Linked DNA regions of Homo sapiens. The protein of the gene in region 1 interacts with the protein of each later gene in a pairwise test. Each region holds a gene or a part of one and is shown in the gene's direction. Other genes may lie near its edges. The genes, in order: PLEKHA3, SH2B2, DOK3 and RNMT.

Region 1 (7,247 bases):
ATATAAATACTATATATGTATATATTTTCTTTTTTTGAAATGGAGTCTTGCTCTGTCGCCCAGGCTGGAGTGCAGTGGCGCAATCTCAGCTCACTGCAAGCTCCGCCTCCTGGGTTCATGCCATTCTCCTGCCTCAGCCTCCTGAGCAGATGGGACCACAGGCGCCTGCCACCATGCCCAGCTAATTTTTTGTATTTTTAGTAGAGACGGGGTTTCACCATGTTAGCCAGGATGGTCTCGATCTCCTGACCTCGTGATCTGCCCGCCTTAGTCTTCCAAAGTGTTGGGATTACAGGCGTGAGACACTGCGCCTGGCCCATTTTATGTATTTTTTAATACCATCTTACAGGACTGTGGTGTGGTGTTGAGTAAAACATAGTTTGACAATGTTGCTTTTTAGGACAATTGTAGATATGCTATAAACTGTTAATTAACAAGTATGTGTGAACAAAGAAACCAGTGTTTTGAGATGGATGTGTAGTGCTGTGTTCCTGAGGTTGATAGACAAAGGGTACACTTTTTTTTTTTAAGCTGTACTTTTTAGAGTCAAATGCAGTAAAACACCTCAGAGTTGCCTTGCTTCTGCATTGAACTTCTCAGGAAATCCCTTATGTTACAAATGCTCTGTAGTCCAGAGAAGTCAATGCGTATTTTACATATAAGAAACTAAAATAATTATTAGTTCTAGAGACAAATAGCATGGAAAGTAAGGTCAGACAATCTTCATGTTTTTTTTTTAAATAACATTGTTTATTTATTTATATGAAAAACTTACATTTATTTATATGAAAAATAAAGCTGAAAATTTGAGTATTCCAAAACAATTTAATCTGATCTTTGTAAGTGCTTTAATCTGATCTTTATAAGCACTTTATATAGTTAATCTCAATGAATTCATCTTAGAGTAAACTTGCATTTAACTTTATTTCAAGTTGTCATAAAAGTTCAGACAACCATCACTGGACCTACAGATTGAGTGATTATTATAGTGGGGATGTCCTTGGGTTAGTAAGCCTAAAGGAAGTAATTTCTGTTAAAGGAGATGTTAGTGGCCATTTGCATCTTAATGTCAATCTTATCAGATGTTCCCAGACTACAAACTGGGTGGGTCATATCTCTTAGCATTTCAACTGGTATTTCTCAGAGCAACTAGTGGCTCATGTTCCAAATATAGAAGGCATTTGCATAACATCAATGTTAGACCTGGGCTTGTTAGACTCTTGGGCTCATGTATACAAAAGCAACCACCCTAAACCTTTAGTATAATCTTTGTTTTTCTGCTACCATGTTAAACTTTGAAATAATCAGTTTTACTTGGCTGCCTCCCTTTATATTTTGATGGAGTAGTTGGATCTTCCAAATTATGTTTAGTATTTATCATATTTTTTAAATGTTCTGCTTAATTAGGTATTCTTTATTTTTTTAAATATATGTTTTGGAAATCCACTGAGACTTAGGGTTCTTCTTCTGAGTTCTTTAAAGTCTTGAATTATTAATGCTGTTTTCCATGAAAACCACACTTTAGAACATTTGTATATCAGCTACCTAAATAATTAATGATAAAGAGAAGCTTTGCTGCCAGACTCTACTACTGTCCTTTAAAAAAGAGATATTTATTAGAATATTTTGTGGCTTGCTAGATACTCCTTTTTTATCACATTTATATCTTATTTATAGTTATATACCCTGTTTTTTATATTTGTATACACACACATATATATGTATTATGTATAAAATTTGGTTTTCACTTTTGAAAAAAGAATCCAGCATGTTTTTGGTGTGTGTTGAAAAAGATTCCAATTAATGGTTATTAGGGAGAAAGCTTGATGTTGTACTAATTATGTTGCTTGAGTCTGTGAAAGATTAAATTTTTTTTTGCCAGTTATCTTTTTCTCTGAGTAAATTTATGTTTATTATGATAATAGTAAATTAGAGCTGCATGATTCTACTTGACATATGGATTATGCTAATTTTTTTTTTTTTTTCCAAAATTTCTAGATGAAGCGTTCTGTCAGCCACCCTGGTTCTTGCAGTTCAGAGAGGTAAAAGAACCTTTTCTTCTGACTAAGTTCTCTCAAATTATATCCATCTAGGGAAGTTCTTTGGGCCTTTAACAAGTGGTGTGGAATGTAAACTCTGTATGGGTTAGGTCTGGTTCAAAACCAGCATTTTATCTCTCAGTATTTATCTCCTAGTATTTAGTATAAGGGCCTGGCCTCAGTAGGTAGTCAGTAAAGAAAAAAATGAATGAATTAACCAGCAAGGTAAGCACGTTGCCAGCCATTTTACCTTTTTTAGATGTTTGAAATGCAGTCATATATTGAAGAATGACTTTTCCATCAATGATAGACTGCATATGTGACAGTGGCCTCATAAGATTATAATACCATATTTTTACTGTACTTTTTCCATGTTTAGGTATGTTTAGATACACAAATACCATTGTTACAGTCACCCACAACATTCAGTACAGTAACATGCAGTAGAAGTTTGTAGCCTAAGAACAATAGGCTATACCACATAGCCTACATGTGTAGTAGGCTATACTAGCTAGTTTTGTGTAAGCACGCTCTGTGATGTTTGCACAGTGACAGAATCACCTAGCGATGGATTTCTCAGAATGCATCCTTGTCATTAAGAGACGCATGACTGTATATCAAGTGATGGTTAGACAGAAGTACATTTTTGATGTGTTGAGACTCCACAGCTAGGGCTCATTTTACCTCAGCTGTTTATAGCATCATCTATTCATGCTGAGCTGTTGTTTCATTAAGAGAGAAAGATCTTGCTGAAGAGAGAAAACCACTTGATATTTTAAAGTACATATTCATATCAATACGTTTAAAAATTTTACCTTCTGGATAGATCTTACCAAAATGCTAAGTTGTTAAACTATTATTTTGTTAGGTAATAGTCCTTTAAGTTGCTATGGTTGTCTTATTTAGTTCTTTGGAAAGTGATTTAATTATAGTGACATTGGCATTTATTTCTCTATATTTGGACTGTTAAATGCTGTTTTGTCATGTTTTAATTTTTTCCCCTGATGATTGTATAATCTTTGATTAAACTGTCAAATACTCAGAGGAATCCAATGATGTATATATCCAACCTTGTCAGGGAATCAAGAGTCCCACCAACTGAATTTTCCAGAAAAATGGAAGCTTAATCAATTTTTGACCAACTTTTATTTTTATGAAAGAAATTTTTCTATCCTTTCTACCTCATAAAATAATAATTTTAAAATCTTATTTGTTTCCTGATGAATCAAGGTTGTCATTAAGTACAGTAAAGTTGGGCTGTTACAAAAATAGTAGCTGAGATGCTGTTAGGTGGTGGTGATTTGCTTCTCTGTTTAAATTTTTCAGACAGATTTTTAAAAGAGTTTTTCTAGGCCCCTTTTTGCCATCTTTATCTTCTCTTGCTGTTGTCAGTGAGTCTACCTCTAGCTCTATGAACTCCTTGCCCATCTCTTTCAGTCTGCTGGTTTTGATCAGATATGGATTGACTTAAAATACATGCATTCATGAAACCTATGACTTCTAGTTTTCAAACATTTGTAAACCGACTGATATGTCTGCTCTCTGGAGTCTCCCCTACAGAAGTCACTACTTCTTCATTGTACCCCTCTTCCTTTTAGTTCAGCTCAGAAGCCATATTCTCCAGGTTACCAGCTGTCTTCTAAATGGGTTCACTTGTTTTTGACTTCTGAGTAGAATGTTGCTAACACGGGACGTTGAGCATAAAAATAATTCTTTTTTCACTTAAAGAGAAGTCATTTAAAATTCCAGTTGAGTGTGTTTTTGTTTATGTAAGGCCTTACAATTTAATGCTTTTTACTTAATTTGCAGGAGTAGCCACTCTATAAAAGAACCAGTATCTACACTTCACCGACTCTCCCAGCGACGCCGAAGAACCTACTCAGATACAGATTCTTGTAGTGATATTCCTCTTGAAGACCCAGATAGTAAGTGACATAGATTCTGTCTCTTTCTTTGGCATATTCAGCAAAATTACTGTGGGGCTCTGTAATTTCTGGAAATGAAGTATACTGACTGAACATTGTACTTTGTTTCTTTGATTCCTTAATTCAGAGGTAAGCAAACAGCGCTCAATCAATGAAAGCTCATATATCCCCTTACAAACAGGTTTGTTACTAACTAAGGAGTGCTGAGGATTGCTTTGTAAATATCGTATCTCAGATATATATTTATAGAATATCATGATCTTTTACCACCACTAGGACTTAAAAAACATTTTAGAAGAAGGCATGAATTGTTAGCAGGATTCTAGGGGAAAATAAAGGCAAGTTCCAAGTTCATATAAAAGTCAGCATTGTTACTTTACTAAAATACCTAGAAATGGCTAAGGAAAAGAATTTTGTCTGGTAGTCACAGTGAATTATAGTAGCATTCATTCCTCTACCTTTTTCTTCCTTATTAAAGAGGCAGCATACTGTGATTGAATGTTTTTAGGAAAGGTTTTGTGATTTATGTTAAAATTTTTAAATTTTTCTCTTCAGAGAAGAAGCTTTGAAAGTGTGTCAGAATATCTAGTAAGATAGTAGTGACCATGATTTGCAGTGAACACAAATATAGTCTTATTATTACATCTCCATTAATAGACTTATACTCTCCAAGTCTCTACTATTTCTCAGGAAGCATGTGGGATAGAAACTATGTACAATTTCCAATTAAGGAACAGGTCGTGTTCCAATAGTTAGTTCATTTGTAAGTCAGTTGTTTGGAAAACAGATTTTATTTTTCTTGTGGAAATGACATGATAAGTGGTGGTTAGCTCTTTGGATAGCTAACCATTCTTTGGAAGAGCCCAGTGAATTCATAGTATGGCTGAAATGGGACAAAACAATGGTGTATTTCTAGCATTTGAGTGTATTGAAAACACTGATTAAGCTGGAGTTGTTTTATGTAACCAGAAAGTTAAACAGGTTTAGTTCATACATATGGCAATTTTAAAAAGGATTGCTGGTCATTTTTGGATTTTTAGGAGTTGATAGAATCTTTTTTTTTTTTTAATGCCCACTTTTTTTTTAAACTGAATTAATCATCTATTTATTAATATATGGCACTATTCTATGCTCATTAACATTTTGAATTTAAATTGAGATGTGGGTGGAGAAATGAAGGAAAGAAACCGGGAAGGGGAAGGGAGAAAGAAACTTTCTTGGGCCAATCAAGCAAGACCTGGAAGAGAAGAGGAGGAGAGGAGGAGGGTTAAAGAGGTTGAGTATGTGAAAAAAGTTATCTGAGGCAGGTAAGATAGACTCTGATTCTCTTTATTCTTTATGCCTTTTACACATGACTCTTAATCCAGAGTTCATGAAGGAGTTCTGTATGCTACCTTGTAGTTTTAAGTGCGACATCTTTTTTTTTTTTTAAGGGGATCATTTGTGATTACTAAAATAATTTTTTTAAAGCCATCCATTTTTCTTTAGAATTCTTTTCTTCTAGTTACTCTAGTCCTGAATATTTGAAAACAATTTTCAAAAGATCTAGGTGTACATGCTCTATTATATTTAGCATCCCCCAGTTTAACTGTTATGGACTGTAACAAAACTAGTCTCACACACACACACACGCACGCACACACACACACGCGCATACATATAGTTCACTTCTCTAGAACATCTTTAAATTAGCAAGTATAGACTAGGTCAGAAATTTTATCCTTAGATTTTTTCCTGTTTATACTAGTTTAGTGTTTCAATTAGCTGACAAAGCAAAGATTGAATTAGTGCTCTTTCCAGAAAGTATATATTTTGCAATTGGCAGTCTTAGTTGAAAGTTGTTACTCAAAAATATTCTTCTTGTGAGATGCAACTGCTTCTATTTTCTTTAACAAGCTTTTTCAAAAAGTATGAAAGTAATAAATGATGATGGTAAACTCAAACTATATATATAAAGGTACAACTGCCTTAGAACAGGACTATGCCAGTGTAGTCAGCTGTGTTAACATGGAGTTGCAGTGATAGTTCTGTGAGCTGCATTACAAATGGAGAAATGGGATCTTTCAGTATGAGGTACCTTGTCAGCTTTGCTCAGAAAGTCTTAGAATGAAAAGAGGAATACCTGAATTTAGTCCTCGTTCTGTTACCAATTGTGTGATCTTGGGTAAGGCATGTATCCTTTTATGGGTCTTGGTTTCTTTGCCTAGGAACAAGGAGGATATTAACAGCATTAAAATAGGCTGAAAAAGCAATAGTTAATTAATAAAGATTAAATTCAATTCAGCAAATATTTATTGACTACCTATTATGTGCCAACCATGATTCTAGCAGTGAACAAAACAAAAATCTCTACTTCAGGCAATTTCATCATTTATCTTATGAATTCTGATGTTTCTCCTTGTGGCTGTTGATACTCTAGTCTAAAAGTTAAGTTTTCCTGCATGAAACAAACAAGGAAATACAAAATTAGCCAGAAGCTAAAGGAATTTCATGTCCCTGAACAGGAAATTTAAAATGTTCTTTCACAGAGGACTGGAGTTAATATTGACAGGATGTTTAACGTTTTTATCAATGTCTTCATAGGACCTGTTCACTGTTCAAAAAATACACTTAATGGAGATTTGGCATCAGCAACCATTCCTGAAGAAAGCAGACTTATGGCCAAAAAACAATCTGAATCAGAAGATACTCTTCCATCCTTCTCTTCCTGAAGAAACTGAAGTGTCCAACTTCCTCTAAGTATTGCTATGCAAAAGCTGCTGTAATTAAACTATTGTTATAGGGAGTAGTTTTTTCCCTTAGGACTCTGCACTTTATAGAATGTTGTAAAACAGACAAACAAGAAAACAAACCACATACTTTTGAAGTGTATTTTATCTTTATATAGTTTGTTTGCAAGAGTATTTTCCTAATAACTTCACAGTATGAATGTGCATCTTTTTTTTTTGAACAAATGATGGTGTAACATTTTGACATCCATAAGGACAAATGTAGATATTTTTCTTAAAAACTCTGAGGGGACTGACAGCATGGTCAGGGTGTATTGTAGCTTATAAACATGAAATCTTATAAGGTTTCAGTTTGACAGAAGTGTGATATATGTAACTTGTGCCATGGACCAAATGGTCACTTTACCACAGCTAAAAATGAGTTACGATAGCAGCTTGATGGTGATTGTATTGTATTCCTTTAATCAAAAAGGAAACACAATATTCTAAGTATCTTTAGCCCAAATACCATGACATATTGAGCATCTTTAAATAACCAGACTGTATTGTCCTTC
Region 2 (7,333 bases), on another chromosome or scaffold:
CAGGAACATGTCTAAGACCCACCCGCCCCGGAGTCTGGGGCTCGAGAACCTTTATGTTCCAGGCCAGGCCCAGGGGCCATGGGTGGGCTGCAGGGGTGGCCTTGAGGCGAACGGGCAGCTCACCGTGTCTCCACCTGGCCAGGTGCTCTACAAGCTGGCATGGAGCGAGAGCATGGAGAGGGACTGTGCCACCTTCTGCGCCAAGAAGTGAGGACCCCCACTTGGGCCCCCCCTCAGCCCCACAGCGAGCTCCCAGCACCCCCGCAACACCCCCGAGTTCCTGCCTCATGTCCCCCACTCCTTAGCCCTCCATCACAGCCCCCCATTCTGGCCCTCCCCCTACCCCTACTCCCGGTATCCACTACCCCCTAGCCCCACCCCATCACATGGTACACACCCCCCTTCCCCAACACACACACTCGGCCTCAGCAAAGCTTCCCGTGTCCCCCAGGTTCGCTGACCACCTGCACAAGTTCCACGAGAATGACAACGGGGCTGCGGCTGGTGACTTGTGGCAGTGATACCCCGGGGCCTCCCCCGTGACAGTGACGGCTGCGCCTCCACCCCGACTGCTCAGTGCATCTAATCACTTAGACTCCCCTGAAGAATCCCCCATGGAAACTGCCCTTATCCGCTGTCCAGCAGCTGCCAGAGGCCCCAGGTCACCTCGGGTCCCCTTGAAAGAATGTCTCGGTCACATCAGGCCCGCTAGGTCCAGAGAGCGAGCCCCCAATGCCCGGCCAGGCTAAGCCGCAGAGACCCTCTCAGCCCCCACCTCAGGTTAGGGCTCTGCCCGCAGCCTGACCTCTAGCCCTGGTGGCAGAGGTCCCTCAGCTGCGAGGCTAATTGGGTGACCACCGATTCCAGCTGCGGTTAATCCAGCTTGGGCCTGTCTGCACTGCGATCCTCTTGGGCTCTCCTAGGATCCCCCCATGCCCCGTAAGAGGTGGAAGACGCTTCCTTCCAGGACAGCAGGCTTTGAGTCCAGCACCCCCAGCCTGCCTTTGCCACCAGCCCCACCCTGCAGAGTATATGAGGCTTGACAGAGTCTGCCCCCTCCCCCACTGCACCCCAAGAGAGAGAGCCCCAGCCAGCGGAACAGTTTCTATTACCCCCTCCCTGCCCCCAGACCCATGTGATTTCTGCTTTCTTCTTTAGCAAGATATTCTGGTTTCTAGATAAGGAAGAGTCTCTAATGAGCCCCCGAGCCCCAGTCTCTTCAGACTCATGGATTGGTATGAGGGGTCTGAACGTCTCCTAGCCAATCAGAACTGGCTGTGGACCACCCTAGCACGGCCACCTCTCAGGGCCACTGGCAGGCCTTCCTGAGTTAGATTTGTAGTTGCATATTTAGCTTTGCACATTTGAAATAAACCACGGTTGCAGCCACCCTGGTGCCCTGTGCTCTGGGACGCTGGAGGGACTGGAGGCTGGTGGGGATGCCTGCGGTGCCACCCCTGGGAGCTGGGGCTGGCCTCACAGCTGGGCACACAGAACATTCCTCCCCCTCTTCTCATCTCCAGGAATTCCATGAGTACATTCAGAGCTCTGCTGAAACCCAGATCCAGTGTCCGAGTGCTTTTGAGAGGACAAGTAGCACCATCAAAAAGGGAAACCCATTCCTTTATTCAAAAACCACCCGGGGCCAGGCGCGGTGGGTCACACCTGTAATCCCAGCGCTTTGGGAGGCCGAGGCAGGTGGATCACTTGAGGTCAGGAGTTCGTGACCAGCCTGGCCAACGTGGTGAAACCCCGTCTCTACCAAAAATACAAAAATTAGCTGGGCATGGTGGCGCATGCCTGTAATCCCAGCCACTCAGGAGGGTGAGGCAGGAGAATCGTTTGAACCCGGGAGGCGGAGGTTGCAGTGAGCTGAGATCGTGCCAGTGCACTCCAGCCTGGGAAACAGAGTGAGACTCCATCTCAAAAAAAAAAAAAAAACCACCTGTCGGGCTGTGGTTGGGTGTATGACGTGTCTTGGTCCACGTCAGTTCCTGGGGAATCTCTGCTTCCCTTTCTGTGCTCCCCTTTCCCATGGGCCCCCGCCTGCCAGGGGCTGCAAAGCCCGTGCCCATCAATCTCCCTGAGCACCAGCCTCGCATGGGAACCCCCCGAGACACAGGTTCTGGGCCACCTCACCTCCAGCCCAGCCTCAGATAGAGGAGCGCATTCTCTGGGTCTGGAGTGGGTGCATTAACTCATTGTCCAGCTGTCACAAGACTGGCTGCAAACCCAGGTCCCCCACTGCAGCCCACCAGGCCAGGGTCCCCTGTGCTACCTCTGTCTCCATTTTAGTTCTGAACAGTCTAAAGCATGTGTATCCAGGGGCCTTTCTTTGGGGTCCCCGTCCCAGCACCCCTCATCTCCCCCATGAGGACTTCTTCCAAGCCCCTCAAGCCTCCTGCCCTCAGGGACCCAGGATGGACCTTTCCTCCCTGACCTTCATTCCTATCCCCAGCGAGGCGACAGCTGCTCTTGGCCAACCACGCCCCCTCCACCCCCACAGCCACTTCCACATCTCCATCAGTTCCTCCTTGTGGGTCCGAGGCGCTCTGCCGCCGGCCCCTCCTCACTTCTTCCTCCCTGGGGATGGATCCAAGCTATTGTCCTGCCCATGGCTTCCCATCTCAGGACCCTCTCTGGCCGCTATCATCCCAGCAGTGGAGTTCAGCCCACTACTCTGAACCAGGTTAGTCCACCGCGGGTCAGGCTCTCCCCTCTCCCAGGAGGGTGGAGACCACAACCAGGCCATGTATGGAGCTTCCCTTTCTCCCACTCTCGGGCACCCCCTCCTCCCCCTTCCCGGCCTCATTCATAGGTGTCCTGGTTCCCAACCAGGCGTGCAGGCCTGTGTGCAGCTCCGATCGAGGGCTGGCCCACTGCCGAAGCTTTCATTAAAGTGTCTGCTGGCCTGGTCCTGCGGAGGGAACAGAGCCGAGATGTGGGGCAGGGAAGGGGTCTGCCTGTCTTCCGTGCCCCCGTGGAGGGCAGCACCGGGGTTTTGGGCAGCAGGTGAAGGCTCTGTCCCCTCCACCTTCAACTCTGGAAGCCCCACCTTTCCATCCCTAAGAAGGGTTTGATAAAAACCCTTGTCTGTAAATTAGAGATGGGAAATGGCTCTGGGAAAAGTCAGAGGTCAGTTTGGGCCCGGGAGGGCGACAGATGGAGGCAGCTCCGGCTGGCAAGGAGACCAGGACAGAACTGCCAGAGGTGGGGGCAGGGGACAAGGAGGGAGATGAGGGGAGAAGACACCCAGGGGTCCCCCCCTGCTATCTCCAGGAGCAAGACTACTCTCTTCTCTGAGCGGCCCTTTCCACACCTCTGCCCCCACCGAAGCCCTCCCTCCCCTCTCAGACCCCTTCCAGGCCTGCTGAGCCCCCTGCACCTCTTTCAGGAAGCCTCCCAGAGCCCCCGCGCTGTGCCCTCAGCACCAGGGGTCAGGCTACAAATGCCCCGCAAAGCCCAGCGGGACTGTTTCCTCAGCCCCACTGGTCTCTGCCCTAAAGCAGGCGAGTTCTGGAGCCAGGCAGGGGTGAGGAAGGTGCCAGGGTTGTGGCCCCTCATCGCCCCTCTATGATCTCTGACACCTCTCCGGGTGGCATCAGGCCCCCATCACAGCGAAGGCTGGGTGGTGGGGGCACTGCGCTCAGGGGGGCCGTCCCGCCCTGTGGCCCGGGGGCGATTTCCCGCACCGGAGGGCTGCAGGGAGGGGGCGTGGTGGCGCCCTCGAGATTTATGAGAACCAGGCGTCGACTTCCTCCGTTGCGACATCCAGGCCTCCTCCAGGCTCCCATTGTCCCTGCTGCGGAGAGTCTGGCCACAGCGGCGGCTCCCGCGAAGCACCCGTCAGCGAGGGGCGCTTCGAGGGCGTCCGCGTCCCATACACCCGCCACGCAGGACATTCCCCCGGCCCCACGCTCCGCGCTCCCGGGGCCACCACCACCGCGGGCTCGAGGGGTGGCCTCCACGAGGAGGAGTGGGAGTCCCGCGCCTGGCCTGGGGCCGGCTCGGCGACATGGGGACCCCCGCCCAGATGGGGCGACTCGGAGCCGGCTCCTAACCCCTCTCTCCGGGCCCCAGGACCGGGCAGTCTCGGCACCGCAGCTGCGGGGAGCCAGCAAGCACCGGCCACCGGCGCCGCTCGGGCTCCGCGGATGGCCGGGGGCGGGGCCTGAGCGGCGCAAGTGGGGGCGGGAGGGGGCGGGGCCAGGACGCGCGAGGGGGGGCGGGGCCGGGGCTCGCGGCGGGGGCGGGGGCGGGGCGGGGCCGGGAGGCGCGCGCCTCGCGGGCGGAGGGGCGCGCCGCGCTGGGGCTGGGCTTGGAGCGCGCGGAGCTCGGCTGCCAGAGAGCCGCGCGGGGGACGCGCCGGGACCGCGAGGAGCGCAGGAGCCTTCGAGGCGGTGAACGAGGGAGGGAGCCCAGTCCGCCGCGGGCCATGAGCCACCGGGCCCGGGGAGCCCGGCCGCGGTCCGGGCAGCGCTCAGCCGGCGCCCCAGCCCGCTCGGCCGCAGCTGCGCGCCTGTAGGTATGGCCTCCTTATACCCAGTTCCTCGCTCCCTGGTCCTTCCCCCGGGACCCCTGTCTGTCCCCGGGGACGTGCGCTGTGTGCGCACCGCTGCCCGAAGGAGAGCGGCCGCACGCGCCTTGGTCCGCGCGTGTCGTCTTTGTGTGCGCGGGTGGGAGGGAGGAGGGCGCGCGAGGGAGGGGAGGCGCCCCCGGCTGGGATCTGCTCCCCGATCCCCATCCCGGGCGGGGCGGGGAGCCGCTGGAGGGGCCGAGCCGCCTCTGGAGCAGCTGCGCCCCCGCCCCCTGCTAGGGCCCCGGCCGGGTAGTGGGGCGAGAGCAGCCGGGTCCTTAGAGGAGGGGTCTCTGGTTGGGGGAAGGGGTGCCCAGGTCTCTTCCCTACGCTGGGAGCGCTGGGAGGGGGCGTCAACCTAGAATGAGGGTGAGGGCCACGGGATGGGATCGGGGAGGACCTCCTCCAGGCCACAGGCACGCCCTCCCTTTGGCCCAGGCCCCCCTTTCTCGACCTGCCCAGCCGGGGAGCTCCCCGGAGCCCCCGATTGCCGGGAGGATCGTGGAGGGTGCCCAAGAGGCCGGCGCCTTTAAGAAGGGGCGGGTTCGTGCCCTCCATTCAGGCCCTTGGGCCTCGGCCATTGATGAACCTGCGGGCTGCGCGGGCCGGAACCGCGCCAGCCCAGCGGGCTGAAGCCGGGCAGAGGCAGGGACGCATCCTGGCCCCCTGCAGCCCCGAAGTGGGGGCCTTCAGGGAGGGAAGTCTGCAGTGACTGGAGCCTCTCAGGAGCCACGCAAGGCAGACCGGGCAGCCCCAGGCGAGACTCTGAACACGAATAAGCCAGGATCTACGTGCACTTCGAGCTAGTGCAAGGGAGAGCCTCAGGCTAGGCTGTCAGACCTGGGTGGAGCCCTACCAATGCCCCCGAGCCAACATCACCTACCCTGTAAAATGGGATGGTGCTGCCTGCCTCCTGGCTAAGGGACCGGCAACTCCCGGCAGGAATTGCGTCCCAGAGTCAGGTCCCTGGAGCTCCTCTGGGAGGACTGGGGGCAGGGGGTGTGGTTTCCCCAAGAGGTTTTGACTGCCTCTTGAGCTGAAGCCCCCACTACTGTGTCCCACCTTGAACTCTCCCAACCTCTTCCCTCCTGGCCTCCCCACTCCACGCAGGAAGAGGTTGGGAGAGTGACCTAGAACTTTTCAGCTCCAGGAGCTTTGGGAGAGGTCTGGTGGTGGCGGTGGTGGCACTTCTTTTAGGCTAGTGTGGATCAGGGCATTTTTGGGGGTCTCAGAGACAGTTTCCCACCAGCTACTTCCTTAGAGGTCTGTCCTACCAACATACAAGAACAGCCCCACCCCGTGGCAGGCCGGCTTCTGATGCTGCTTGGTTGAATGCTTCTAGGTAATCAAGGGTTAATGCACACGCTTTTCTTTTTACCCTTGTTGTGAAAAATCTGTCTGAAGTTTCTAAATCCCTCTTCCCTACTTAGCGTGAATCTCCTAGGGAGGACTTCTATACAAATACCCAGGGGTGGGCTTCCCTTGGGGGTCTTGGAAGTGGGATCTCCACCCAAGTGATCCTGGGCCTCCCAGGGCTGAGCTTTTGGTTTCAAACTTACTTGTGCCAAGCTAAGGGCATCAGGATCGCCGTTCGTGTCATCTTTACAACAATCCTGTGGGTTTAGTGCTATTATTATCCCCACACACTTAGGGAGGGGAAGTGACTGGCCCAAAGTCCCGCAGTCAACGAGCCAGGCCTCCCAACCACTCCTCTCTGACAAGAGGCTGGCACTTCTTGCCCTGCCTACCCAGCCTGGGTTGCAAGGAATTGGGGGTTTAGGGGCTTCAGGCCTCCTGGCTGCTGTCTTCCCGGGGCTACGCTCATTCTTACTGTCCAAGTGAGGCCAGGGGACTGGTCAGAGCCCTGGGGCCTGGGGAGGTTTCTCTTCCCTGCTCACCTGGCTGGGTGCCGTTTTATGGCTATGCTCTGTCTAGGGGGATAGCAGGTGTGACCCCTCAACACGAGGTCACAGCCCACACCTGTTTGGGCAGAGCAAGGCAGGGCATCGCTGTGTGGGCGTGCAGCATCTTTTGGTTCCTCTGGGTGAAGCAGGGTTTGGGCCCCATTCTCCACATACTTCCGGGCCATCTGAGGGTAGCGCCCACCTGGGGGGTGGGGAGGACAACCAGCCAGGAGCTCACGGTTCGGTGGAAGAGACAGGCCACAGCCATGTGGTGTGGTGGAGGGGCAGGGGGCAAGGGTGGAGGTGGGAAGAGGATCAAGGGGCGTTCCCGAGGCCTCTGTGGGCTTGGGGGCCTGCCTGCTATTGGGGCAGAACAGGGGAAGTAGGCAGTGCCCAGCTGGGTGCTGAGGCTCTGTGCAGAGGACAGGCAGGAGTTGGAGGAAGAGGATGTATTTGAACTTGGATGTGGTGAGTTTGAGGTACCTGGAGATCAGCCAGGCTGGGAGTTGAGCTCAGAGAAAGGCCCAGGGAAGCTTTATTAGCACCTGTAGTCTCCAGAGTTCGGGGATGCTCAGATCTTAGGGGTGCCACCAGAGGTCTCAGGAGGCACTGGTATGAGTGTCCTGGAAAAGCCAGAAGGCAGCTGGGTGGGATGAGTTGGTGAGGGGCACTAAGGGGGTATCCTGCAGGTTTAGGGGGCTGGGCCAGGGCCCATGTGAGAGTTATGACACTGGGGGAGTGGAAGGGGCTGAGTGTCTCAGGCCAAGGCTGGAGATGGGAGGGGGGAACCTCTGCTCTGCAACCCCAGAAAGGCAGGGTGGGGTGGGAGTAACCAGGGCCAGTGCAGCTGGAA
Region 3 (7,964 bases), on another chromosome or scaffold:
GGGGGAGGACAGAGGGATGTGGCCAGGTACTGTGGGAGCACGGCAGATGGAATGGCCCACCTTGCTGGGGACATCTGGGAGGTGGGAGCTCAGAGAAGGCTTTTCCGGGAAGGTGACATTTGAATTGGGAAGAGGGGCAGTCCAGGCTGAAAGCACAGAGGCGGACGGCCCAGGAAGGTCAGGGTCATTCAGTGGTCAGTCAAGGAGGTTGAGGCACTGGGGTAGGGCTGGATCCCAGCGGCACCTGTGTCCTTTCAGTGCTGTGCAGTCCTCTGCAGACCACCAGAGGCCCTGGACCAGGCCCTCTGTTCACAGATGGGCCAGACCCCATCCCGGAGGCCTTCCTCCACGGACTTCTGAGTATTAGGGAGATGGTGAGCACAGAAAAGGTGAAGCCAGTGGGCCAGGAAAGCGAGCCCAGAGTAAAGCCTCTGGAGCTTGATGACAGCGCTTCTGGGTGAGAGGCTGACCCAGGAGAAGGGGGAAGGCGCGCCAGGCCGAGCGGTGGTGAAGATGGCTGCAGTGCCTTGGGAAAGAGCTGTGTGCTATACATAGGGCAGGTGGTGGGAATGATGAGAAGGGGACAGACAAAGAAATAGGAAGGAGGACAGAGAGCAGAGCAGATGCAGGGTGCCTGCTTGCCTCTAGATAGGTGATAGGCCAGTGGCCCCAACCTCAGGGTCTCTCCTTGGTCCCCAGCGGTGTACACATGATGGTGGCCACCCCGGGGCGCCTCATGGATTTGCTGCAGAAGAAGATGGTCAGCCTAGACATCTGTCGCTACCTGGCCCTGGACGAGGCTGACCGCATGATCGACATGGGCTTCGAGGGTGACATCCGTACCATCTTCTCCTACTTCAAGGTGCCGCCCCCGCCCGGCCAGGGCACCCTGCACCGCCCCCCACTGCACGCCACATCAGACTGCAGGGACCCCATGCCCCTGGCCACCCCAACCCACTGCTCATACTTTGTGGGCTGTGTCTCAGTTGCTCAGCTTCCCCAGACCCCATGCCCCTCAGCCCAGCCCTGTGTGCCCTTGGTCGCAGCCCCCCTCTTCCTCAGGGCCAGCGACAGACCCTGCTCTTCAGTGCCACCATGCCGAAGAAGATTCAGAACTTTGCTAAGAGTGCCCTTGTAAAGCCTGTGACCATCAATGTGGGGCGCGCTGGGGCTGCCAGCCTGGATGTCATCCAGGTGGGCAGGTGCTCCTGATGGGCGGTCTCTCACCTGTGGGGGCTGGATCTGACAAGTCTCCCTGAAGCTGATTGGAGCCGGGGGTCCACCTTGTGGGAACCGGGGGTTTCATTCAAAGCCCCTGACGCTTAACCAGGGCCATTTTTAGGGCACCAGCCCTTGGCGGCCAGAGGCTTCTGGTCACCTCCTGGTCCAGATGACGGGCCATGGCAGGGCTGTGGCGGGTAAGCCTAATCTCAAGATCACCTGACCTGATCTTTGTGGTGGCAGGAGGTAGAATATGTGAAGGAGGAGGCCAAGATGGTGTACCTGCTCGAGTGCCTGCAGAAGACACCCCCGCCTGTGAGTGCAGCCAGGCCAGGCCGGGGCCAGAGTCCCCAGGACCAGGGAGGGCTTTGGAGGGGACAGAGTGCCAGGGGAGGTGCGGTGGGTGCCCAGGCAGTTAGCCCCTGACTGGAGTTGGTCTTTCCGGACAGGTACTCATCTTTGCAGAGAAGAAGGCAGACGTGGACGCCATCCACGAGTACCTGCTGCTCAAGGGGGTTGAGGCCGTAGCCATCCATGGGGGCAAAGGTCAGGGTGGTGCAAGCACTGGCTTGGACCCTGCTGCAGTAGCAGTGCTTTACCTAATGCCTTCCCCTGCCTGGTTGGCCTGCCACTCCCCTGTCCCATGGTGGCTCTGACAGTGTCTGCCTGACCCTCCCCAGACCAGGAGGAACGGACTAAGGCCATCGAGGCATTCCGGGAGGGCAAGAAGGATGTCCTAGTAGCCACAGACGTTGCCTCCAAGGGCCTGGACTTCCCTGCCATCCAGCACGTCATCAATTATGACATGCCAGAGGAGATTGAGAACTATGGTAAGAGCCTGGGGCCCAAGGGCATGGGTTAGGCCGGAAAAGGGCCAAGCCAGGCCCCTAGTGTCCAGCGATGGGCCAGAGACTCTGTCCTTCTCTCTGCAGTACACCGGATTGGCCGCACCGGGCGCTCGGGAAACACAGGCATCGCCACTACCTTCATCAACAAAGCGTGTGGTGAGTCTGTTACCAGCGCCACCTTAGCTGTTCCCTGGGTCCCCTGCCTGTGGCCACCCAGGTTCTGGCCACAGAGCCCAGGATGGGCCCTGATGCTTCCCCACTCCTCCCCCAGATGAGTCAGTGCTGATGGACCTCAAAGCGCTGCTGCTAGAAGCCAAGCAGAAGGTGCCGCCCGTGCTGCAGGTGCTGCATTGCGGGGATGAGTCCATGCTGGACATTGGAGGTGACTGCAGAGCGGGATCCCCGAGTCCCCAGCCGGCAGGTGGCAAGGAGGGGTGCTGGAAGTCAGAAACGTGAAACCGGTGGACCGAGGGTGCCTAACGGGGGGCCCGAAGTCCAGGGCATGGATCCTGGTCCTTGACTTGGCTGACCCCTGTCCCCATTCCCCCAGGAGAGCGCGGCTGTGCCTTCTGCGGGGGCCTGGGTCATCGGATCACTGACTGCCCCAAACTCGAGGCTATGCAGACCAAGCAGGTCAGCAACATCGGTCGCAAGGACTACCTGGCCCACAGCTCCATGGACTTCTGAGCCGACAGTCTTCCCTTCTCTCCAAGAGGCCTCAGTCCCCAAGACTGCCACCAGTCTACACATACAGCAGCCCCCTGGACAGAATCAGCATTTCAGCTCAGCTGGCCTGGGATGGGCCAGGCTGGTCCTGGCTGCCTGTTCCCTGTGCTCTTCAGAATTACTGTTTTTGTTTCCTTTTACCCCAGCTGCCATTAAAGCCCAAACCTCTAGCCCAGCCCTGGCCCTGCCTCTGTGTTTCACCTCATCCGCCCCCTGGTTCCTGGACAGACGTCACCTCTGACCTCTGGAGCCCCTCTGAGGCAAGGCCCCAGCATCTCCCACTAGCACTGCCAACACCTGGCCTGCTGGTACTTGGCTGTGGAAGGAGCCACCGAGCTGGTGCCCGCCTCTGGGGACTCTGGGTCTCTCCACTGGGTTGTCTGAATTTATGACTCAAGGAGGGACCACATTGGCGGGCCAAGGAGAAGTGCTTGGATTCTCTGGTCTCCCTGGCCAGCTGTCATAGCTCTCAGGCCCACTCTTCCTGTCAGGGCTGTGATGTTTCAGGGACTTCTCCTGAAGCCCCTTGGGAGGCTGCTTCTTGCCTCAGGACCCCCACCCACTGCCTGCCTGTGCCAGCCACCTGGAGGGAGCCCTCCATTCCGTTGACTGAGGAGGCAGCAGATGTCATAGAACTGCCATTTAGGCCACAAGCTCTCCCTAAGCCTGCTCTGTGCCCAGCTCTGCTGAGCTGTGAGGACCTAGATGGGCCAGGGAGATGGCTGCCTGGGAAGCCGTCAGGCGAGGGGAGAGAAAGACGCACACGCAGAAACGTGGACGGCAGTCACAAGACCGCTAGCAGATGAGGCAGGATCTCAGCATCTGGTGAGAGGTAGGCAGGGACGGCACAGGCGGCCACACTTCCTCTGAGCCAGGCACTTTGCATGTATGGCCACATGCTCATTCCAGTGAGACAGCGGTTGCTCAAGCCATATTTGTCACTTGATATGTGGCATTGGGCAAGTTACTTAATTTTTCTGAGCACCGATTTCCTCACTGTTGAAATGGCGATGAGAACGCAAAGGATGTGGCGTCTGAGGTGGACGGAGCTTAGGGCTGCTTGGGCCACAGTGGGCACAGAGCTGGGTGCCAGGAGGCCTTCAGGACATATTTCCTGGCCAAGTGCATTCCCAAATGGCATTCCTTATCCTCTTCCATGTTCTCTCCCAGAGGTGGTGCTGAATGACCTGAGGCTGTTCCAGAATAAAGGTATACACACAGCCCCGCTATTGGCATCTTGCTAGGCAAGCCAACAAAAGGCGCCCCCAGCAGGAAGCAAAGCTTTAAATGAACATGTGACCTCTCCGGGGCCCCCTGGGACCTGCCACCCACACTCACGTGGTTGGGGCCATTCAGGGCTGTGGGTCCCATGTGGACTGGATGCCCAGCGTGAGTGTATACCGTGAGGGCCTTTGAGCTCTCGGACAGCGTGGAGTGGTCAAGGGAGGCCTCCAGGAGGAAGAGGTGGCCAACCGCCCCAGGCAGCACAGTGGTGAGGGGGCCCTGGAGGGGCTGGCCTGGGGGAGATGCAGGCCAGAACACACAGGTCCCTGAGTGTTGGGCTGAGGAGCCTGGGCTGCACCCCAGGAAGGGGAGAGACAGGTTGGTCTTGGGTTGTGGAGAGTGCTGCATGGAGGCCCAGTGGGGCAGTGGCCCCTGGGGGGATGCCAAAGGCTGGTGATGTTCAGTGGCTCGTGAGGTGGAGAGGAGCAGGTGAACACGAGAGAGATTTCAGGGAGAAAGAAAAGCAGCAAGATGGGGTGAGGCGCTCAAACCAGGACGCCGAGTGGGAAAGCCAGGAGTTGGCTAGAGAAGGGTCCTGGGTGGAGGCAGGGCCAGGGAGTGTCAGGCCCAGGGTGCGCAGCTGCCCGGGGCGGGACGGGGGAGGGGCGGGAACTCATGACTCGGGGAGCCAGACTGCGATCAGACGCGCGTGCCCAGCTGAACCAGGTGCGTGAGAAGGCTGCCTTCAGGTGGCCGGGGGCTCCCTCCAGGTAGGTGTGGGCACCTTGGGCAGCCAGAACCCCAGGGAGGAAATACATGCTGCCCCCAGCCCCTGAGCTGAAGACAGGCTCCCCTCCCCCCGGCCTGCAGCTGTCTCTAGACGGAGGGACGGGAAGTGGCCAGAAGGGGAAGTGTGAGGAGTTCCCGTCCAGCCTGTCATCAGTCTCCCCAGGTCTTGAAGCGGCGGCCCTGCTCCTGGCCGTGACCATGGACCCTCTGGAGACCCCTATCAAGGATGGCATCCTCTACCAGCAGCATGTCAAGTTTGGCAAGGTGGGGACCCCTGGCTGCCAGGCAGCTGCCAAGGACCAACAGTGGGTGGAGAATGCAGCCTCTGCCCCTGCCTCGGACAGCCCAGGCAGACCTGGGAGACTTGGGAAGGGAGTCAGGGTGGAGGATCCCACCCAGGTATGGGGAGTGGAATGGAGTGCGGGTGTCAGCCTGAGACGGCAGGGGCTGAGCAGGCTCTGCCAGACCCTGCCTCCGGGAGAGATGGGAAATACAGGAGTGGGAGAGGGTCGAAGGCTCAAACCTCCCAGCAGGGAAGAGCTTCACAGCCTCTGACCCATGAAATAGTGCCACCGAGGGCCCTAAATAGGGTGAGGGGCTGAGCTGGAGGAGGCCTCAAGGGTGGAGCCCCTCCCTGCAGCGGCACTGTCCTGGGAGCAAGGAGGCAGGGGGTCACCTCTCCTCGGCAGCAGCCCCACACCCCCGCAGCTCAGCTGCAGCTGCTGCCCAGGCAGATAAACCGTCAGTTTCCTTTGCTCGAAGCTATTTGCATGTTTCCTTCCTTAACAGCTTGAGGCAGAGGCCTCCCTCCCACCCCAGCTCTTGGCCTGTGGCCCAAGTGCCCCTTTTTGGGGGTGAGAGGGAACCAATATAATGGCAGTGTCTGGTGGTCTGCCCGGCCACTGGATGCTTTACAAACATGACCCAGTAGCAGTCCCAGCTCGAGTTCTCATGGCCTTTTGAGAGACGACATTGATGCTTGTGGAGGTCACAGTTAGGAAAGAGCGGGCTGGGATTTGAACCCAGGGCTGACCAATCCCAAGCATAGCCAAGGCCTCCTTACCTGGCTCCCTGAGAAACTGGGGAGCAGAGGCCCGCTCCTGGCTGGGAGCGTTTGCCGAGCAGCTTGTGCTGAGCCAAGTGGCACGGACAATCTGCCACCCAAGGGTCTTCACCCTCCCGCTCCCCTCCCGCAGAAGTGCTGGCGGAAGGTGTGGGCTCTGCTGTATGCAGGAGGCCCATCAGGCGTGGCACGGCTGGAGAGCTGGGAGGTCCGGGATGGTGGCCTGGGAGCAGCGGGTGACAGGTCGGCAGGGCCTGGCCGGCGAGGGGAGCGACGGGTCATCCGCCTGGCTGACTGTGTGTCCGTGCTGCCGGCTGACGGCGAGAGCTGCCCCCGGGACACCGGTGCCTTCCTGCTCACCACCACCGAGCGAAGCCATCTACTGGCTGCTCAGCACCGCCAGGCCTGGATGGGCCCCATCTGCCAGCTGGCCTTCCCGGTGAGTGCGGCGAGCAGGGGGGCGATTGGGCTGGGGCACCTGCCCCCGACTTGTCCACCTCCACGCTCACATCCCATCACCCAGCAAGCTCCACCGAGCACCTACAAGCCTGGGAAAAGTAAATCTATAATGACTCTCAGAGGGCCGTGCGTGCCATGGAGAAAATGGACCGCCAGGGGAGCAGGAGGAAGTGAGGGAGCGACGGGCAGGGTGGCCAGGGAAGGCCTCTCAGAGGAGGGCCCTGAATGACAGGAACCCACTGGGCAAAGGTCTGAGGACAGGGGCAGCCTGGGGAGTTGTGAACAGAGGGAGTCCCGTGGGCAGAGGCCCCGAGGCCGGACAGTGTGGGGTGTTTAAGGGCAGAAAGAAGGCGACGTGGCTGGAAGGAAAGGAGTGCAGGAGGAAGCCAACTCACAGAGCTTAGGAGAGCGGCTGAAATGCCCTAGGCCATGTGTGTGGTTTTGTTCTGAGTGAGAGGCGAAGGCTTTGGAGGGTTTAAGCCGGACATGTTTGTAAAGCCCCAAAAGGTCTGTGATGGGTCAAAAGGAAGTGAGCCTGGGGGTTCTTCAAAGAGGTAAACAGAGTTACCATGTGGCCCACAGGTCCACTCCTAGGTGTGTGCCCAAGAGAACTTGAACAGGTGTTCAAACAAAACATGTACATGTGAGGCAGGAGGATCGCATGAGCCCCAGAGGTCGAGGCTGCAGTGAGCTGTAATCGTGCCACTTCACTCCAGCCCGGGAGACAGAGCAAGACCCTATCTTAAAAAAAAACCCACATGGACATGAACGTCCATAGCAGCACTACTCACAGCCACCAGAAGGTGGAAACAGCCTACATGGCCATCAGCTGACAAATGGATAAGCAAAACGTGGTCCGTCCGCAAGATGGAATACTACTCAGCCATAAAAACAAACAAACGCCTGGCACAGTAGCTCTTGCCTGTAATCTTAGCACTTTGGGAGGCTGAGGTAGGAGGATTGCTTGAGCCTAGGAATTCAAGATCAGCCTGGGCAACATAGTGAGACCCTGTCTCAAAAAAAAAAAAGAAAAGAAGAAAGAAAGAAATGTACAGACAAGGTAACTCCATTGGGATAGAAATCAGATGAGTGTTGGCAGGAGCTGGAGGAAGGGAGAAGTGGGGAGTGGCTGCTCATGGGTACAGGGCTTCCATGTGGGATGATGGAAAAGTTCTGGAACTAGACAGTGGCAACAGTGCACAGCCTTGTGAGTATACTAAAAAGCACTGGTGGCCGGGTGCGGTGGCTCAGGCCTATAATCCCAGCACTTTGGGAGGCCGAGGCGGGCGGATCACCTGAGGTCAGAAGTTCGAGACCAGCCTCAACATGGAGAAACCCCGTCTCTACTAAAAATACAGAAGTAGCTGGGCATGGTGGTGCATGCCTGTAATGCCAGCTACTCGGGAGGCTGAGGCAGGCAGAATTGCTTGAACCTGGGAGGCAGAGGTTGCGGTGAGCCGAGATCATGCCATTGCACTCCAGCCTGGGCAACGAGAGCAAAACTCCGTCTCAAAAAAAAAAAAAAAAAAAAGAAAAGAAAAAAAAGAGCACTGATGATACACTTTAAGATGTAAAATGGGCCGGGCGTAGTGGTTCACACCTGTAATCCCAGCACTTTGGGAGGCCGAGGCAGG
Region 4 (7,247 bases), on another chromosome or scaffold:
TTTCTGATTTGTTGTTGTTGTTCTCTGATTCAGTTCTATTTGGTACTTCTTGGTATTTTGTTACCTCAAATGGTGGGTCATGAAAACTAATAACCATTGAAACCCTTACCCATTCATAGTGAGTGACTTGTTACCCATTCCTTTAAGCAACTTGATTTCTTATTCTTTTTCATTATCCAAAAGGCTTTTTATTTATTTACTTTTTTTTTTAAGCACAAACACTTCCTTCATGAAAAAGCTTTTTTTTTTTAAGTGGGGTCTCACTTTGTTGTCTAGGCTGGAGTACAGTGGCACAATCATGGCTCACTGCAGCCTGGACCTCCTGGGCTCAGGTGATCCTCCTACTTCAGCCTGCTGAGTAACTGGGACTAAGGCATGTGCCACCATGCCCAGCTATTTTTTGTAGAGACGGGATTTTGCCATGTTGCCCAACCTGGTCTCGAACTCCAGAGCTCAAGCAGTCTGCCCACCTCGTTCCCCCAAAGTGGTGGGATTACAGGTGTGAGCCACTGTGCCCAGCGAAAGCTTAACATTTTAATAGTGGTATATAAGCTATAAACATCTTGAAAACATGATTTACATTGAGCTTCTCCATAGTAGGAGGTCACTAAATTTGTTGAATGGCTTAATAAATGAACCACCATAATTCTTGCCCAATAGATAGTTCAGTTATTTCTCTCGCTTTCCCATCTTAATGTAGGTCTAAAAACATATTTGAAAGAGACTTAATGGTCATCAAACTGCAGGCTGAGTCCTGAAACTTGTCTAAAGCCATTTCTACTCTCTTCACTTTCTACCTAATTGGAACACCCATTATGAAATACGATTTCAGAATTCTTGCTGTAGAATCCCAAACTTTTTCTGTTCTTGATGCCCTTAGTGTCCATAGGCCAAAAGAAATATAACAGTTCCATTTATTAAGTAGTTTACCCCAAAGAATTTAAAAGTATTTATGGTCTAACAACTTTATGTCTGTTTAAAAAATTAACACACATAAATTGGGGGGAAAGGTAATGTTTCTGTTTTATTCTTGATTAATCACAATCCCTTACTAACAGGATGTGTGAACCTATTGGGTACTGTACAACTTCAAGCCTCGAAATCAGATAGGCACCACCAACCTCATTTCCTGTTTCACCTTGATTTTCTGTGATACCAAAATCTCAGCTTCACAAAGTCATTGAAAGGTATGTAGTGTAATCTATTCAGCTGGAACTGTGCTGTACTTAAAGCTGGTAGTTTCTGTGATATCTTCCACATTAGGTTCTGTGGTGCCTGTTTGTTATGGTGCCAACCATGCAGTTTGGGAACCAGGGTTATAGAGTAAGGATCAGAACCAAAATGGAACTAGTGCATGTGTATCGCCACTTCATTTGTCAGCTTTAATGCCAACAGTGACTTTTATGAATAAGATTATAGAATTTTGGGGGGATTATAATTAGTACTGCCATATTCAGAAATTCATACATAGTATCAGTTAACATTTTTTAATATGCTCTCTACAATGAGATTTTTTTAAACTCCTAGTTGATCAAATTCTAGTTAAAATTATTTTAGGCCAGGCGCAGTGGCTTACGCCTGTAATCCCAGCACTTTGGGAGGCCAAGGCAGGCGGATCACCTGGGGTCAGGAGTTAGAGACCAGCCTGCCCAACGTGGGGAAATCGCGTCTCAGCTAAACATACAAAAAATTAGCCAGGCGTGGTGGCAGGTGCCTGTAATCCCAGCTACTGGGGAGGCTGAGGCGGGAGAATCACTTGAACCCCAGAGGCGGAGCTTGCAGTGAGCCGAGATCATGCCATTGCACTCCAGCCTGGGCGACAAGAGTGAAACTCCGTCTCAAAAAAAAAAAAAATTGTTTTAAAGTCTTAGTGTTTACAAGTAATACCAATTTTTTTCCTATTCTAGTGTTGGTTCATGAAGTTTTACCATCAATTCAAGTAATCATAAATGGCAAATTCTGCAAAAGCAGAAGAATATGAAAAGATGTCTCTTGAACAGGCAAAAGCGTCAGTGAATTCTGAAACAGAGTCTTCATTCAATATTAATGAAAACACAACAGCTTCTGGGACTGGGCTTTCTGAAAAGACTTCTGTCTGTAGGCAAGTAGACATAGCAAGAAAGAGAAAAGAGTTTGAAGATGATCTTGTAAAGGAAAGTTCTAGTTGTGGGAAAGACACTCCATCCAAGAAGAGAAAACTTGATCCTGAAATTGTCCCAGAGGAAAAAGATTGTGGTGATGCTGAAGGCAATTCAAAGAAAAGAAAAAGAGAAACTGAGGATGTTCCAAAAGATAAATCTTCTACTGGAGATGGCACTCAAAATAAGAGAAAAATAGCACTTGAGGATGTTCCTGAAAAGCAGAAAGTATGTTCAGTGTATTTTCATTTATTCATAATAGAATATGTAAGTTTGAAATGTGGAACACCCGTGGATTCATACTGGTTTTTACATAATAGCTTAAGAATGTTCTATTTTTAATAGATATGGTCCTAAGACAAAGTAGGCTTTTAACTCTTATGATTTCTGTTAAGGTGAAACATCTCCTGCTAATGAGATAGATTTTTTAGTTTTTGTTTGTTTTTATTTTCTAATGAGATAATGTTTATCTTATTTTAGAATATTTAACTAGAAACTTTTTTTTCCGAGACAGAGTCTTGCACTGTCGCCCAGGCTGGAGTGTGATGGTGTAATCAAAGCTCACTGCAGCCACAACCTCCTGGGCATAAGCAGTCCTCCGGCGTTTTTAAAAAGACTAGAGTATGAGATCCAAATGATTTACCTATTTTTCTTTTTTATTAGGTGTTCAGCTCTAGTTTTTTTGTCAGAGGTTATCACTTAAAGGGATAACTTTTAAAATTATACCTAGCTTTACATCCCTTTATTAATGTAATTCCTTAAACAGTTTTCAGCTTCTTATTAATGTATTTTACATACTGTTTTAGTTAAGTGAATGCAAATGCCTAATATTTAGCAAAGATATTATAGGGCAAGTTGTTTTCATCTGGAAGTACCACATTAGAAAGGAATTTGAGGCAGAATCTGGAGTTAGAGGAAAAGATTACTTTAATGAGTAAATAAAATTCTGCCATTGGCCCTTATGAGGAAAGTGACTGATAGTGAGGCTTTTGTCATCAATGGAATGTGAATTCTTGTAACAGAGGGGAGCCCCCCCTTTTTTTTTTTTTTTTTTTTGGAGACAGAGTCTCACTCTGTCTCCTAGGCTAGAGTGCAGTGGTGTAAACTCGGCTCACTGCAACCTCCACCTCCCGGGACCTCCACCTCCCGGGTTCAAGCGATTCTCCTGCCTCAGCCTCCCGAGTAGCTGGGACTACAGGTGCCCACCACCATGCCTGGCTAATTTTTGTGTTTTTTAGTACAGATGGGATTTCACCATATTGGCCAGGCTGGTCTTGAATTCCTGACCTTGTGATCTGCCCACCTCAGCCTCCCAAAGTGCTGGGATTACAGGCATGAGCCACTGCGCCTGGCTGGGAGCTTGTATTTTAAACATAGTTTTCAAACTTTTACTAGCCCCAGAACCCCTTTTTCAACTGAAAATCTTACACTTAAACCTGTTACGTAAAATAGGTCAAGGATTTGTTTGAAAGGCCTTTCAGCACATCAGTGAGATTCAGCACTTTGGCTGAAAAGGGAGGTAGGAGGATCCGAAGCCCTTTACCTATCATGGCATTTTTACAGGATTTCTAGGGCCTCAGGAAGCACAAATTGAAAACTGTTGGGTTACATGTAACATATATAATAGCATTATTATAATAGAAATCACTAACGCTGCACATAGCCTACTGAATTCTAATCTCTCTTTTTTTTTGAGAGTCTCGCTCTGTTGCCCATGCTGGAGTGCGGTGGCCCGATCTCGGCTCACTGCAACCTCCACCTCCTGGGTTCAAGCGATTCTCCTGCCTCAGCCTCCTGAGTAGCTGGAATTACAGGTGTGCACCACCATGCCCAGCTAATTTTTGTATTTTTAGTAGAGATAGGGTTTCACCATGTTGGCCAGGCTGGTCTCAAACTCCTGACTTCAAGTGATCCTCCCACCTGGGCCTCCCACAGTGCTGGGATTATAGGTATGAGCCACCTCACCCAGGCCTAATCTCTTTATATACATTATCTTATTTAATTTTCACAACAGCTTTATAATAATAATGTAATTATAGCTTATTCCTAATTTATTCCTTTGTAGAAACACCAAACATTGACTGTCATTTATTGAACTGAATAAATCAGAACTCTGGAAGAGTACTGGGTTTATTAAGACATTGACACTAAAATTAATGCAGATGAAATATCACAATGAAAATTTTAAACCTAGAGATGTTTTTCAAAATAAGGTGATATGGTTTGGGTGTGTCCCTACCCAGATCTCATCTTGAATTATAGCTCTCATAATTCCCACATGTGTGGGAGGGACCTGATGTGAGATAATTGAATCATGGGCGCAGTTCCCCATACTTTTCTCATGGTAGTGAATAAGTCTCACGAGATCTGATGGTTTTATAAGGGGTTTCCCCTTTTACTTGGCTCTCATTGTCTCTTGCCTGCCGCCATGTAAGACCTGCCTTTCACCTTCCACCATGATTGTGAGGCCTCCCCCGCCACGAGGAACTGTGAGTCCATTGAACCTCTTTTTGTTTATAAATTACCCAGTCTCCGGTACGTCTTTAGCAGCAACATTAAAATGGACTGATACACAGGGACACAGAAAACAAATCTTAGGTCTAATGATAATTAGTGAGACTTCTGTGGTTAATTGCCATTGTTTAGTGAAGTTTACCAATTCTAATAGCATTTTATCCATTCACAGGTCAAATGTTCTGAGGCTTATTTTTACCATGTTCTGATCCTTGATTTTTTTCTATTCTCTTTTATTTTCAGAATCTGGAAGAAGGACACAGCTCAACAGTGGCTGCCCATTACAATGAACTTCAGGAAGTTGGTTTGGAGAAGCGTAGTCAAAGTCGTATTTTTTACCTAAGAAACTTTAATAATTGGATGAAAAGTGTTCTCATTGGTATGATCCAACACCAAGCTACTGAGTCTTTAATTCCTATTCATTTAATTATCAAACCTTGACTTTATAAAGCTAGAGCCAAGACTAGGTCTTGAAGACAAATTCTTCTAATATTTACTTTTGGTTGACTGTGTAAGATTTTAATGAGTGTTTAATTATTATGTTAATCAGGTTTTCAGAAGGCAATATTTTTTTTAATGCACAGAATTAAGGTTACCTAGTACTATTAAGTAATGATTCTATTTTACTCTAATAGTTTTGGAGCAACTGCATATTGTTGGTTAAACATTCAGGTTTCATTAAGTCAAGAAATAGGCAGTGTCTTGATTTGTTTAGGCCTTCAATTAGTTGATAAAGATCATGTGTATTACATTGAGGATAGATAAAAACATTCAACTTTTTTGAGCCAACATTTTATCTATGGAAACTCACCTTTGAAATTAAAATGAAAGTGAACAGAGAAAATATGATTCAGAATACAATTCTTGTCGGCACCGTAAGATAGGGTAAAAAAAAGAATATAATTATTGCTCTGTATATTTAGTGCATTAAGTAGACTCTTAGATAAATTTAGAGAACTTTAAAAAGTGGTTTGTTTTAAAATTTTTCATAATAAAGATTTTTTTAAAGCCAGTCAAAGAAGAAGTGAGAATGCTTTCTTAATTATGCTAGAAAGAATAAAGTGCTAATTATGGGTACTTCCTACTAGTTTTGATGATAATTTACTAATTTTCAAAGATAAATTACCTAATCTGATAAGTATTAGCAGTAGGAACTAACTAGGCTTACTTTGAACACATTTTAACATTTTGTATATCACTTGTTTTTAACATTCATGTTCTGTTACAAAAATATTTATTTGACTCTGCCATGTGTCAGCTTAGGCTAAATGAGTGTTCACTTTTTTTTTTTTTTTTTAAGATTAACGTAATGGCATTTTCAGTCTCTACTCACAAGGTTCTCTCTCTACCCCAGTCCTAATTTCTTTTCAGCCTTTCTCTTCCTTCATTACCCTCAATGATGCAGATAACTTATTGGATTTTTTATGAATACTTATTTATTCATGTATTTTTTTATTGAATAACTTTTTCGAGTCCATATTTTCCACATTGTTACATGTATTATTTCTATAATCAGAAAAGAGGTATTTTTTTTTAAAGGACTGAAGTCAGAGTTGGCAAAATTGTCTCTTGGCATATACAGGGTATTCTTTCCTTTTTCAGCTGTTCTAGCAGCTCTCTTGATGTGTGCTTTGCACCTGTGTTTAACATCCTAATACAATCAGTGTGATCTGTGCCAAGCTTTCTCTCTGGCTGTTTCCTTTCTCAACACTCATTCTTTGTCACTCATTTTCTCTTTTTTCTTGGTGCTTGTAGCTTGGTAAGTAAACAGTTGAGTATAGTTCTTGAATGTGATAAAGGCTTTTTTGAAATTGTTTCTTGATGATTTCCTCTCTCGTTAGTCTTACTGTATATAAATGCAGAGATTTTATAATTGTTTTTCGCTCTTTCAGTATTTTTATGCTATTAAGATTCATGGCAGAAAGTTAAATATTATGGAACATTTGTGCTTCTGTTGAAGTTACTTTAAGTTCCTGCAGAAGGTGAAAGTACTTGTACAGGATATTTTTAGCCATCAAAATAATACACACCTGAAAGTGTCCAGCTCAGTGATAAAGACAAGGAGAATGTATCTAGGATTCAGTATTGTATCAAGTTTTAGAACTGTTGAATACTTAACTTGCCTGAGAATATTAATATGCTTTTAATCGACGTTTGAACAATTTGCCTATTGATGTTTGGTTGCCTACTGATTTTATCTGTTGGCTGTTAATGTCATTTAGTAGACTGGGGTCTACCAAATACTGATGATGCTAAAACTAAAAGACATAGTGCTTTTTTTTTTTCTAGTTTTTATATTTCTCTTGGTGGTAAGCCTGACATCTTTGATAATCAGGCTCTTTTATCATTCCATAACAACTTTGATTTACTTACGTGTCTACTGTTAAACACCTAGCTATGGAAAGAGAAAGCTACAAAAAAAAATATGAATAATTAGTTTTTCTAATCCTTACTTAGCTTTTTCTCTCATCCTGAACAAGTGTTGTGTTGTCTTATATTAGAATTTTAAATATCTGCTATTTAAAATTCATTTTTGAAAGTTAACATTCAAAATGCTGCCTTTATTTTCCAAAACACCAGACACGTACTCTTTAA

Evidence for each region.
Region 2: the proteins of PLEKHA3 (region 1) and SH2B2 interact in binary tests that used the Homo sapiens proteins (3 or more experiments, as listed by UniProt).
Region 3: the proteins of PLEKHA3 (region 1) and DOK3 interact in binary tests that used the Homo sapiens proteins (3 or more experiments, as listed by UniProt).
Region 4: the proteins of PLEKHA3 (region 1) and RNMT interact in binary tests that used the Homo sapiens proteins (3 or more experiments, as listed by UniProt).

The regions. Positions count from the first base shown.
Region 1 is NC_000002.12:178,497,213-178,504,459, forward strand, and holds part of PLEKHA3 (pleckstrin homology domain-containing family A member 3), read left to right. Parts: intron 1-1,998; coding exon 1,999-2,042; intron 2,043-3,848; coding exon 3,849-3,964; intron 3,965-6,547; coding exon 6,548-6,675; 3' UTR 6,676-7,247. UniProt on the Homo sapiens protein: Plays a role in regulation of vesicular cargo transport from the trans-Golgi network (TGN) to the plasma membrane.
Region 2 is NC_000007.14:102,282,570-102,289,902, forward strand, and holds the start of SH2B2 (SH2B adapter protein 2), read left to right. Parts: upstream 1-4,298; 5' UTR 4,299-4,525; intron 4,526-5,091; exon of another isoform or gene 5,092-5,908; coding exon of another isoform or gene 5,909-5,918; intron 5,919-6,896; exon of another isoform or gene 6,897-6,948; intron 6,949-7,333. UniProt on the Homo sapiens protein: Adapter protein for several members of the tyrosine kinase receptor family. Involved in multiple signaling pathways. May be involved in coupling from immunoreceptor to Ras signaling. Acts as a negative regulator of cytokine signaling in collaboration with CBL.
Region 3 is NC_000005.10:177,506,583-177,514,546, reverse strand, and holds the start of DOK3 (docking protein 3), read left to right. Parts: upstream 1-4,720; 5' UTR 4,721-4,789; intron 4,790-4,889; 5' UTR 4,890-5,006; coding exon 5,007-5,072; intron 5,073-6,004; coding exon 6,005-6,310; intron 6,311-7,964. Other genes in the region: probable ATP-dependent RNA helicase DDX41, read left to right, coding at 700-862, 1,063-1,194, 1,465-1,536, 1,671-1,767, 1,902-2,051, 2,154-2,225, 2,341-2,451, 2,620-2,756. UniProt on the Homo sapiens protein: DOK proteins are enzymatically inert adaptor or scaffolding proteins. They provide a docking platform for the assembly of multimolecular signaling complexes. DOK3 is a negative regulator of JNK signaling in B-cells through interaction with INPP5D/SHIP1.
Region 4 is NC_000018.10:13,729,569-13,736,815, forward strand, and holds part of RNMT (mRNA cap guanine-N(7) methyltransferase), read left to right. Parts: intron 1-1,058; 5' UTR 1,059-1,187; intron 1,188-1,907; 5' UTR 1,908-1,949; coding exon 1,950-2,366; intron 2,367-4,895; coding exon 4,896-5,031; intron 5,032-7,247. UniProt on the Homo sapiens protein: Catalytic subunit of the mRNA-capping methyltransferase RNMT:RAMAC complex that methylates the N7 position of the added guanosine to the 5'-cap structure of mRNAs. Binds RNA containing 5'-terminal GpppC.